2 separate regions of the Homo sapiens genome follow, and region 2 is linked to region 1. The links come from fine-mapping of genetic effects on gene expression. Tissue or cell type: thyroid. Region 1 holds a variant in brackets; the other region holds the start of a gene. All regions are shown on one strand. Distances are between the middles of the regions.

Region 1 (6,079 bases):
GGTTCTGTGATTCTTTGATGCAGACACGGAACAGTACGCAGGCCTCTGGGTCCACAGCCAACTGTTCTCCACGACACTGTGGAGTTTTCTCCTCCTTCTTCCTCCCTTCTCACTTCAGCAGAGCACGTCCTTCCTCTTAGATCAGAGATAAAACACTTCGCGCCCAGTCTGGCAGTGCTGACAACAGCAGCCACGTATTTTATTTCTTTGCTTTATTTATTTATACCCATCTTTGTTGCAAAAGGATTTAAGGCCACTTATAAAGTTGCAAACAACAGAACAAGATAAAATAAATTTAAAATAAGTGAGAAAGATGAGACACAGGAATAAGTAGCTTCACTGCAACTTTGCCCATTGCTCTCCTGTTAGAGCTGTTGAGCTTCTAGCCATTAAATCAGAGTGATGGGCAATGATTTCTGTACTCATGCCCTGTACTCAGCACTTCAGTGGATTTTTCTCCTGGGCTTGTTTTAGAGCCTCTCCCCCTTTGGGATACAAATGCCCTTTTAGGTCACTTTGGGAAACATAGAAGTTCTCTGCAGGAGGTCATGTTCGCAGGGTGTGACCACAGTGGTGATAGGGTTGTTGCTGTGTTGTTGCTCTTTTAAGGCCAAGCAAGAGAAGACAGCTAGTTCCTAACTAGAAACTTTAAGCTGTTGGAGCTGTCCAGAATCGATGACTTTCTTGGCTTCTTTGGTATGCCCTGCATACCAAAGGCTGTGAGGAGGAGGCTCAGACTGCAGCCAGGGTTCAGCCCATAGCCCAGCCTTCCTCCATCCCCCACTCATTCTTCATCTTTTTTGTACCATTTTGACCTCTACCCAAGCTCAGATCTCTTGGTTCCGTGAGCCCATCTTCCTCGCTGCCTTGACTTCTTCATTCAAGGAACCAGTGCACCTTCTCTGCTCTCAGGACCTCCACTTCTTCCCACAAACAAGCCTTGGTCCAACTGGCTCATTGCTTCATGTGTGCTGTCTAACTCCCTGGACCTTGTCCCTTTAGAATTCAACCCACCGCCTGGGTTGGGTGGCCTCTTCCATTTCTTCTAAGATGCTGCAAAATTAATCAAATCTAACTCCACCAGGAAGCCCAGTATTCCTGATGGCTCTTACCACTAGAGATGTTTGGAAAATGTTCATTTGGGGGCTGTTGTGGTAACTGGCATCCATCGGAGTAGAAGTGCTAAATGCTGTGCATTGCATGGAACAATTCCACCCAACGGAGAATTAACCCTCTTAAAATGCCAGGTGTGTTCCTGCTAATAAGCACTGATAAAAGCACAAAGAAAACCTAACTATTTGCCATTGTACAATGGCATCAGAGCAGCCACACTGCAGATTTCTTGGTTGATGCCCAAGAGTTTAGTGGGAGGAAATCACTAAATTATTTTTATCTGCATTTTGAAGGGGTCAGGCTATGCTGGGAATTGTTTTTCATTAGGCCAGAGTCCCACAGTTGGATCGAGCTATAGCTCTGCTCAGGTCATTTGTTGGTCTACATCGGGGACCTAGAAGCCACAGAGTTGGTGAGTGCAGCCTGTCCTTGGGCGCTATCAGATCACCCCAGTCCCCAGAGGGGATGCTGGTGGCTGGCATAGTGATGGAGAACTGGCCACAAAGGAATATCTTTCCAGAGGTTTGTTGTTTTTGTTTTTGTTTTTGTTTTTTTTGGTGGTGGTGGTGGTGGTGTTTTTTGCTGTAACAGGCAAAGGAGCAGAACACTCAGAATTAAATGGTCTGTTGTCTCATAAAAACCAACTATGTAATCCCAGCACTTTGGGAGGCCAAGGCAGGCGGATCACTTGAAGTCAGGAGTCCAAGACCAGCCTGGCCAACATGGTGAAACCCCATCTCTACTAAAAATACAAAAAAATTAGCTGGGCATGGTGATGCACGCCTGTAATCCCAGCTACTCCAGAGGCTGAGGCAGGAGAATCACTTGAACCCGGGAGGCAGAGGTTGCAGTGGGCTGAGATAGTGCCACTGCACTCCAGCCTGGGCGACAGGGCGATACTCCATCTCAAAAAAAAAAAGACAAAAACAAAAACAAAAAACAAAAACAACTATGATGCTCTTAAAGTTAAAAAATAAGCACAGTGGCTAAGAGAAATAATTCAGTTTAGCTAGCTCTCAGACCACTGCAGACTGCTGCCCACTGATCCCTGCATTTCTCTCTTGCTTTACTGTGGATTGGCTAATTATTTCCTGATTTATTCATTTATTATCTAACACACTTGGAGTGCCTGCTATGTACCAGTACTAAGAAAAAGTTCCTGACTTGGGCTCTTTATATGCGAAGAAGGGTGGCAAATCTATCTGTTACTACGGAGCCACGTGCCAGGTGCTAAGGTGGAGGTGTGCTCAGTGGGTCCAGAGAGCAGAGAGAAAGGGCTTCAGGTGAGACCTGGCAGAGGTTCAGGATAGCAGGGAATCTCCTAAGTGTCCCAAATGCGCTAATGTTTGAGCTAGATCCTGAAAGAAAACAAGGAGTTAACCAAGGTGAAGAACAAACGAGTGGACCAGGATTCCAGAGAAAGAACACTGTGCACCAAGCCACAGAGG[C/T]GTGAAACAAAAGGCTCTCAGTTGTCTAGTGTGGCAAGTGGCAGGGGTGCATGGGGGGAGGGTGTCGGAGTGGTGCCCTGGAGACAGGGAGAGCTGCGACAGATTCCTGGGGACGGATCCTTCTGCAGCTCAAAGATAGGAGAGGCCCTTAGACATCCCTCAAGGCCATATGTCAATCAAAATAATTAAAAGTAAAAGAACCGGAAGGCAGGCTTATATATTCCAACATCCATCTAGTTTTTCCCCCAAAAAAAGCTTTTGATAAAATAAGATGAAGTGCCAAAAAGATGCATGTGTTCAATAGCGCAGCAGAAAGTGAATAGAGTAAAAGTAATAAAAAATACTCGGCCGGGCATGGTGGCTCACACCTGTAGTCCCAGCACTTTGGGAGGCCAAGGCAGGTGGTTCACCTGAGGTTGGGAGTTCAAGACTAGCCTGGCCAACATGGTGAAACCCCATTACTACTAAAAATACAATAATTAGGCAGGCGTGGAGGCACGCACCTGTAAATCCCAGCTACTTGGGAGACTGAGGCAGGAGAATTGTTTGAACCCAGGAGGAGGAGGTTGCAGTGAGCCAAGATCATACCATTGCACTCCAGCCTGGGTGACAAGGCAAGACTCCGTCTCAAAATAAATAAATAAATAAATAAATAAAATAAAAAATAATCTCTACAAAACTGAGTTATTGCTAATTCTGGGTAGCACAGCACAGGAGAGTGTGCTTGGGTTTGGAGTCTGACAGAACTGAGTGCAAGTCTTGGCTTTACTAACTTGGCTAATGCCACTGTACCAGCACTTTGGGAGGCCAAGGGGGGCAGATCACCTGAGGTTAGGAGTTTGAGACCAGCCTGGCCAACATAGTGAAACGCCATCTCTACTAAAAATACAAAAATTAGCCGGGTGTGATGGCACATGCCTGTAGTCCCAGCTACTTGGGAGGCTGAGGCACAAGAATCACTTGAACCCAGGAGGCGGGAGGTTGCAGTGAGTAGAGGTTGCAACAAGCTCAGATCGTACCACTGCACTCCAGCCTGGGCAACAGAGCAAGACTCTGTCTAAAAAAAAAAAAAAAAAAAAAAAAAAAAGAGATAAAACCTCTCTGGACATTGGTTTCCTCATCCAAACATGGGGGTGATGATACCAATCTCATTGCATTATTGTGTGAATTAAACAGTATCATCCCAGTGGTTTTTACTATTAGCCTGTTATTTGTTGCTTTTTGAAGTACTAACTTAATCAGGGCAAAGAACAGGTTGTGATCTGTGCAGATCAGTTCTCATTAGCAGAATAAAGAACAATCACAGATTACAGTTAATAAGCCAGATCTAGAAATGACAAAATTCTTTCTTATTTTATTCATTTGACAAATGTAAATTACACATTTCCTGTGGGCAGGCACTTCATGAGGCTTATAGTAGTGAACAAGACAGACCCCGTCTCTGCTTTCCTGAGGCTCAAAATCTGGTGATGAGGAAAATGTACTAAGGGATCCCTTCCTGAAGTCTACCCATTTCAGATTCACCAAGTGGCATGTTTGTTGTGGACCAACCTAAAGTGGTTTGGCCACATAGGCCTCTTGGGTTCTCTCTGGTAGGACACAGTTGCCAGCGTAAAAGGTTGTAAAAGATAGATGTGGTGAGGGTCAGCTTCTCCCGCACAACCTTGCAGTTGTGAATACCATGTGAATGAATGTGGGTATGAGACTGAATTCTGCCACAGATGCAGGCATTTATCAAACAAACGTTTATTGACAAGTAGAAACAAAACAGTTGATTCAGCTTGTTTGGGAAGCTTGACAAAGGCCCAGCCCTCTCTCCTTTGAGGTTTTCCAACCACACCTGACACGAAAGGTTCGCCCTAGGCAACTACAAGAATCCTCTAGAGAGGGGACACTGTTACACTGTTTTCCCAAAGCAGCATCATCCCCTCATAAACCATCCAGATTTGGTGGCTGGACACAGGGCAGCCCAGAGCACCATCCCTGAAGGGACAGGCCTGGCTGGATTCTAATACCTGTTTATACAAGGGTGGGTAGTGTCTCTCAGGGTTTTGGCCAGGCTACATACCTTGAATACCGTTAATTGCACCAGTAAAAAGCCTGTTTCTAGCAGTGATTATACTAAGTCACAAGTTTCAACAATAAAACCCATTTTTTGTGTTCAGAATGTTGGACCAAATATGGATAACAGAAAAACTTAAACTGGCCACATTTGGAATGTGGCTCACTTTGATTAATACCAGTTGCCCAATCTAGACTTTGTATTCTTACTGCCTGCAAGCTGATGACCTGGAAATGTAAAGCCTAGACTAACTTCCACAAACAATAAAATACAAGTTATACTTAAGTGCTTTTTTTTTTTTTTTGAGACGGAGTTTCGCTCTTCTTGCCCATGCTGGAGTGGAATGACGGGATCTCGGCTCACCGCAACCTCTGCCTCCTGGGTTCAAGCGATTCTCCCTTCTGCAGCCTCCTGAGTAGCTGGGATTACAGGCACCTGCCACCACGCCCAGCTAATTTTTTGGGGGTTTTTTGTTTGTTTGTTTGTTTGTTTTTGAGACGGAGTCTTGCTCTGTTGCCCAGGCTGGAGTGCAGTGGCAAGATCTGGGCTCACTGCAAGCTCCGCCTCCTAGGTTCACGCCATTCTCCTGCCTCAGCCTCCCAAGTGGCTGGGACTACAGGCGCACGCCGCCACGCCTTGCTAATTTTTTGTATTTTTAGTAGAGACGGGGTTTCACTGTTAGTCAGGATGGTCTCGATCTCCTGACCTTTTGACCTGCCTGCCTCGGCCTCCCAAAGTGCTGGGATTACAGGCATGAGCCACTGCGCCCGGCGGCAATTTTTTTGTATTTTTAGTAGAGACGGGGTTTCTCCGTGTTGGTCAGGCTGGTCTTAAACTGCAGACCTCGGGTGATCCGCCTGCCTTGGTCTCCCAACGTGCTGGGATTACAGGCATGAGCCACCACGCCAGGCCTCAAGTACTTTTTATTTACTTATTTATTTTTATTTTTTAATACTCTAGCACTTTATAGGCATTGTTACCCTGCTGCATTTCTCTTTCCTATTTAAAAGATGTGATTCGCCCTGTGTGTGTGTGTATGTGTGTCTGTGTGTGTGTGTGTGTGTTGTGGGTCTGTGTGTGTGTAAGGGGCTGGGTTATATCTAAAGTGACCAGAAGTCCTAATTTGCCTGGGAGAGTCACAATTTATACCTCTTGCCCTGGAGCCCATCCATTTAGCACCCCCTTTTACTTTCAAAGCTGTCTAGTTGGGATGATAAATTATATGATTTCTGTATTTCTAGAAAGAATGCAATGGCACAGAATAAAGAGAACAAACCCAGGAAAACTAGGTTTGGATCCCGTCTGTACCAGTCCCCATAGGGTGGCCTTGGGCAAGTTGCCCCACCTTAGATTCCTCATCTGTGAACTGAGAATGATGCTTCTGCTCGCCCTCCCTCCCTAGTCAGTTTTCTGTGAGATACCAGTTATGCCACGGATGCAAATGAACTTTGTAAAG
Region 2 (5,518 bases), 170 kb before region 1:
AGTGACTAAGTCTAGCCCACACTAAAGAAAAGAGGATTACACAAGGGCATGAACACCAGGAGGTACAGACCTTTGGGGCCACATTAGCTGCTGCCTACACCTTCCTTGCATGCACAACAACACAGGAATAAACATCAAAATAGATAATAAATAGAGGGAAAATAGGGAAGCAGAAGGGAAAGGGAAAGTGTTCCAGCATCTAATTACTCATGCCTCAGAGCTCTCGCATTCTCTCTCCCCACCTCTAAATCTAGCCCAACAGCACACCCTCTGATCAGGTGCTCTCTTCACAGTCTCACACCTGTCTCCTCTTCTCTACCTGCATAGCACCACCAAAGTTCAGGCTTTCATCTCTTCACACCATGAATATTGCAGCACTACTTTTCTAACCAGGCTCCGTACTCCAATCTTTCTAACTCACACTTTTAACTTATCTTTATGGTACAGAAAGCCCTTCAGTAGCTCCCCATTGTCAAACAAAATCCAGACTCTTTAGGCTGCCGTTTGGTGCCTTCCATAATTTGATCCAGGCCTGGGTATCAAAATGCATCACCCCCAAGCCCCCAGTAACAATTCTCCATCCCAGGCAAACCATGCTCAACACCCAAACACACCATGTTTATACTCAGCTTGAAGCCTCTGCTAATACCATTATTCCCCCTCCCTCCGCAAGACCAGTCTTCACCTTACCATTACAAATCTTTGGCAATTTCCAAGATGCAGAGCAGAGCCCATCTTCTGTTACGCAGTTTCTGTTCACTCCTAACTAGATTTCGGTTCCTCTATGAACTGGCACAGCTGAGAGACCACCCCACCCACTGCACAGGCCAGTCCCTGTGTACCTGCCTGTTTTCCCAAGGAATCGGTAAGTTTCACAACTTCCTTCTTCCAGAGACCACCAGACTGCATCTCTGTGAGGGTGAGGATGGGTCTCACTCATCTTTCCCTCCTGACAGGAGGGCACAGCTGTTCCATGACAGGCAATATTGGTTGACTTAAGATGGACAGATGGAAGGAAGGAAGGAAGGAAGGAAATGTCAAGCCCAGGGTCTAGCATATAACAAGAGGTCAACAAGTAATACATATTTGTTAACACCACCAATTCTTACAATGGGAATTCTTCACCCAGCGACACCTTAGCTATGTAGGAGCCCTTCGAAAGAGAGCAAAGGCAAATGCAGTTTATCTGAGTCTGACACAAACAAGCCGACTCACACAAACATCACAACTAAAGGCAAATCCGCAGCTCCTCCTTCATCGCCCATCCTAACACTGGCTTAGCGATACAGGGTGCCAAGCTCAGGGAAATTATTAGATGGTTCAGCCAGGGCAGAACTCAGTCAGTACAAAGCAACTTCCAATCAGTGCGCTTCAGCTGTGACAACTTGGGAAACAGCAGTGGTGAGAGCTAAAAGGGTGCTGGCGAAAGAGAAAAAAAAATATGTCGCTTGTGGGGTGAGGGCGGTGTCCATATAGTTTAGATAATTCTAGTAAACAAAAGGATTTGTTAAAAAGAAGTAACAGAAGACTTTTTAAAGCCTTCTTTAAAGGGTGAAAATCTCAACTAAAGCACCCAACGTCCAAAATCCAGAGGAAATCTAGCGCTCCCTTTCTAGCTGGCTAGAGCAGTTAAGCCTGAAGTGAATTCTCCCAGGAATCAGATTCCTGGCCAAAGGTTGCCTGCGCAAACCCGGGCCACCCTCGTCTCACGGCAGGGAGCGCTGGAAACGGCTCAGGGGCTAGGCCCGTTAGCGTCGTCTTCCAAGAGCCGTAAATTCGCCCTCCCGCTCTGCTGACCCTGGAGCAAAGTCCATGCAGTGGTTCTCTGAGAGCCGGAGATACGCACCGCGCGGGGAACCCGGGGGTCCGGGGGCCCTAACTTTTGAGTTTTGCACGCCCCGCAGCCTGAGATGGGAAGGTAGCTCGTAGCGCTCCAAACTCACCTGCGTTTCAGAACGACATCTACCCACTGGTTTCAGCTCCTAGAGCAACAACTGCAGAATCTCCATGGTCCAAAGTCCTCCAGGAAAGAGAAGAAAGGGGTGACGGGGGTGAGGGCTGGGAGGCGAGGTCACCAGGGTCCCTTCCCTGGCTCGGGTGGGGGTGGGGGGCGCAACCCCTCACGGCTCCTCCCCACCAAGCCGTCGGGACCCCAGCGGGGGCGCCTCGCGTTGGGCGACAGGGACGCGGGGAGAGAGCGACAAGCTGGAAGCAAGGGCTGCCTGCAAAACTTTCGGTCCTCCAGCGGCAACTCTGCGGGAAAGACCACCCTTCCTTCGGCCCCGCGTCGGGCCTATCCCCGTGTGCCCCGACCCCTGCGCCCCAGGCTTGGGCGGCGCCGCTGCATCCCGGCTGCCGGGCGCGCTGCAGCCTTCGCTCTCCCGCACGCGGCGCTCGCCCGTCCGCGCTGCCCCTCCCCGGCAGGCGGGCGGCCCCGGCGGGCGGGCGGGCGCGGACTGCAGGTGCCTCTCTGCTGCCCCTGGCGGCCGCGGGCGCGCGAGCCCCACCGAGCCGGCTCCGGGAGCCCGAGCGCCCGCCCCTCCTCCGCTCCCTCTCCCCTCCTCCTCCGCCGCCCTCCTCCCATCCCGCCCTTCCTCCCTCCCTCCCCCTTTCAGAACACTCAATGTCGGAACGTTCCGAAGATGACGTCGGAGCGTTCTCGAATCCCGTGTCTCTCGGCTGCTGCTGCCGAAGGAACAGGGAAAAAGCAACAAGAAGGAAGAGCAATGGCGACACTGGATCGCAAAGTGCCCAGTCCGGAGGCGTTTCTGGGCAAACCCTGGTCCTCCTGGATCGACGCCGCCAAATTACACTGCTCCGACAGTAAGAACCCCACCACCTCCTCCTCCTTTTATTATCCTGTAACCTTTCCATTCACCTAGAGCCACTGGGAAAAAGTGTGTGTGTGAGAGAGAGAGTGGCCCCCGGTGTCCTCCATGCTTCTCCCTCTCTCTCTAAATAAATACACACAGAGACAGATCATCAATGCACAGGGAGAGGCCCGGCTGCCAGGGCTGTCTGTCTGTCTGTGCCCGGCTCCCCGTGGCAGCCCGCGGGGTGGGCTCGCAGCCCCACGGTGTTGTCCGTTTAAAAGGCTACTTTGTTGCTGCTTGCATAGTTTTTTGGGTACCTATCTGGGCCAGGTAGATGGAAACCCAGACTTGGGAGAAAATGTTGCATTGTCAATTTTTGAAAGAATTTCATATACAGTATTTATATCGATCTGTTTGCAAATAAACACTCTCCCTCCCCCCTTGACTTTGGCTTTTTTCCCCCCTTTTTTCCTTATTTTCTGTTTTCCTTTTCTTTTTCATCTGCAGATGTAGATTTAGAAGAGGCTGGAAAAGAGGGTGGAAAAAGCAGGGAGGTTATGAGGCTTAATAAAGAAGGTAAGTGGAGCTACTGGCATTTTAGTGTTAGCATGTGTGGCAGAATCTTCACAGGATTTCGAATATAATGTGAATTGTTCTGCTGGGTACAGAGTGACTAAGGCTTGTCAAAAATTGAGCACGCCCAGGTGACTACTGCTTCATGTTAACTTCTTTCAAAGTATAAATACAACTGGGGGGGGGGTAAAGGGGGGTGAGACTGTTGAAGGCAGAAGTTTACTGCACTTCAGTTGGACTCCACGTTTGAACCTTCTGATGCATATCTGCCATTCTCCTTGGGAGCATCATTGCCAAATGGTGGGGCGTTAAAATTTCTGAAATGAAGAGTGGAGTTCCCTTCACAAGCATCCCAGCCTTTCTCGTGGGTGAATGCACAACAGCTTAATGAACCCCACATGGTCAGTCATTCCAGCAGCTACTTCTCCACTCACCACTGAAAACCATTGTACATGGCAAACCTTTGCAGCAAGTTACATTTGGCCCACTTTGCATTTGGTCACAGATTGTTATGTGGCAAGCAGGGTTAGGAGCATCTGTATGTGCAGCCCCTCAGCAGTCATCATCTCTCTTTTCCCAGCATGGAAATACGGTACCTGAAATGGGACACACTGAGTAGATAGGTCATCCCAGACCAAGATATGCAAGAGAAGCCACAACCTGCTGCAATTGGGCATCAAACACATATGGTCGTCATAAATAAATCATATCCTGTTCTCATTTGCAAGCCTGCCGTATGTAACTCTGGCCTATGGGCTTCAAATGGAGCAACTCCGGGGGCCACTTGCTGCTAAGCAAATAGGTGGATTCATTTGAATTGTGATTCACTAACTGATGTCTTATAAACATAATTGGCTGAAATTGGGGGTGGGAAGATGGCACAAGGGGACAGAAGAGGTTGGTGGTATTGAAAGAGTTCAGACATAAGTAGGCCATAGGTGCATTGGTCATCCCAAATGAATGGAGAAAAGGCCATTAGATGCCAAAGAATGGTCCCCCTCATAAAAAGGGATGTCACCCTGGAAGGCAGCTGAAGCCTGCGTGGAAAGATGGAACTCATTTTATGAATCAACACTTCAGATGGTTGGTTTTCTGTGCCCAATCATTTCCTGACCATCCACTGAGAGGAAATTTTGTGCTTCAGAAAAAATAACATGAAGGTTAAAATGCGTACATATTCAAGGACAGTTCCCTAGCATAATGTTTCTGCTAATTAAGCACTTTGGGAACAAAACATTATTCTAAAGATGTTTGCTTCTAAATATCTTAGTGTGATCTTGACAGGTGTCTTCAGGATGCACGAGGGATTGATGTCAAGTGGACTTCTTACAAGTGGCAGCTTATTTGTGTTAAATGTTCATGTGTGTTGGCAGTGGGAAGCATCACTAGAGATTATTTTTCTTCACACACAAACTCTTGAGATCTCTAAGTGCTTGCAAGACCCAGTTATCAGGCTACTGGCAACGTGTCCATAAAAGATGATGAGGCTGTGGAAATCTTTAAATTAAAGTTGAGTAAAGGTCATGGTATAGCACAGGATTGTCACCTCTCAGGTCTGGGTGATGCGTTATGACTATCACACACAAAACTCACATCCTTTCCCCCCAGTCCCTGTTTCTATTTCAGAAGACTGTTGTTCTCAGATTCTCTTTGCCTCATGAGAAACAGATTTTTTTTTTTTTTTTTTTTTTGATACGGATTCTCACTCTGTCGCCAGGCTGGAGTACAGTGGTACGATCTTGGCTCACTGCAACCTCCGCCTCCCGGGTTCAAGCGATTCTCCTGCCTCAGCCTCCTGCATAGCTGGAACTACAGGCACGTGCCACCACACCCAGTTAATTTTTGTATTTTTAGTAGAGACGGGGTTTCACCATGTTGGCCAGGATGGTCTTGATCTCTTGACCTCGTGATCTGCCCACTTGGCCTCCCGAAGTGCTGGAATTACAGGCATGAGCCACCGTGCCTGGCTGAGAAACGGATTCTTTTAAGAAAAAATGAAAAGCTCTCCTTTCCTCAGAAGTCACAGGTGGTACATCCCGCTTATTAGGTCCTTTGTCCTATAAAGGTACGAAGATTTAGCTCCTAATTATACATATTTGCATTAAGGACACCCACTGTTCAGTGTAACTTGA

Which allele goes with the higher level. Positions count from the first base shown, and alleles are read on the strand shown. Sizes are in standard deviations (SD) of each study's normalised expression.
For the expression in thyroid of the gene that starts at base 2,602 in region 2, C is the high allele of the variant in region 1 and T is the other (moderate effect, 0.60 SD a copy in GTEx).

Evidence for each region. PIP is the estimated chance that this variant, and not a neighbour inherited with it, causes the effect.
Region 2: it holds the start of ATXN7L1, and the variant in region 1 is fine-mapped to the expression of ATXN7L1 in thyroid (GTEx, PIP above 0.99).

Annotation. Positions count from the first base shown.
Region 1 is chr7:105,702,154-105,708,232 of GRCh38, reverse strand. All of the region lies in intron 3 of ATXN7L1 (ataxin 7 like 1), which reads left to right. Among named protein-coding and RNA genes, the nearest start is that of EFCAB10, 120 kb to the right of the region's middle. The variant C/T (reference allele first, on the strand shown) is at 2,562.
Region 2 is chr7:105,873,683-105,879,200 of GRCh38, reverse strand. ATXN7L1 (ataxin 7 like 1) reads left to right here and starts at 2,602. Exons shown (of 12, transcript NM_020725.2): 1 at 2,602-2,823; 2 at 3,321-3,389. The coding sequence starts at 2,643. RefSeq lists a silencer at 2,350-2,559.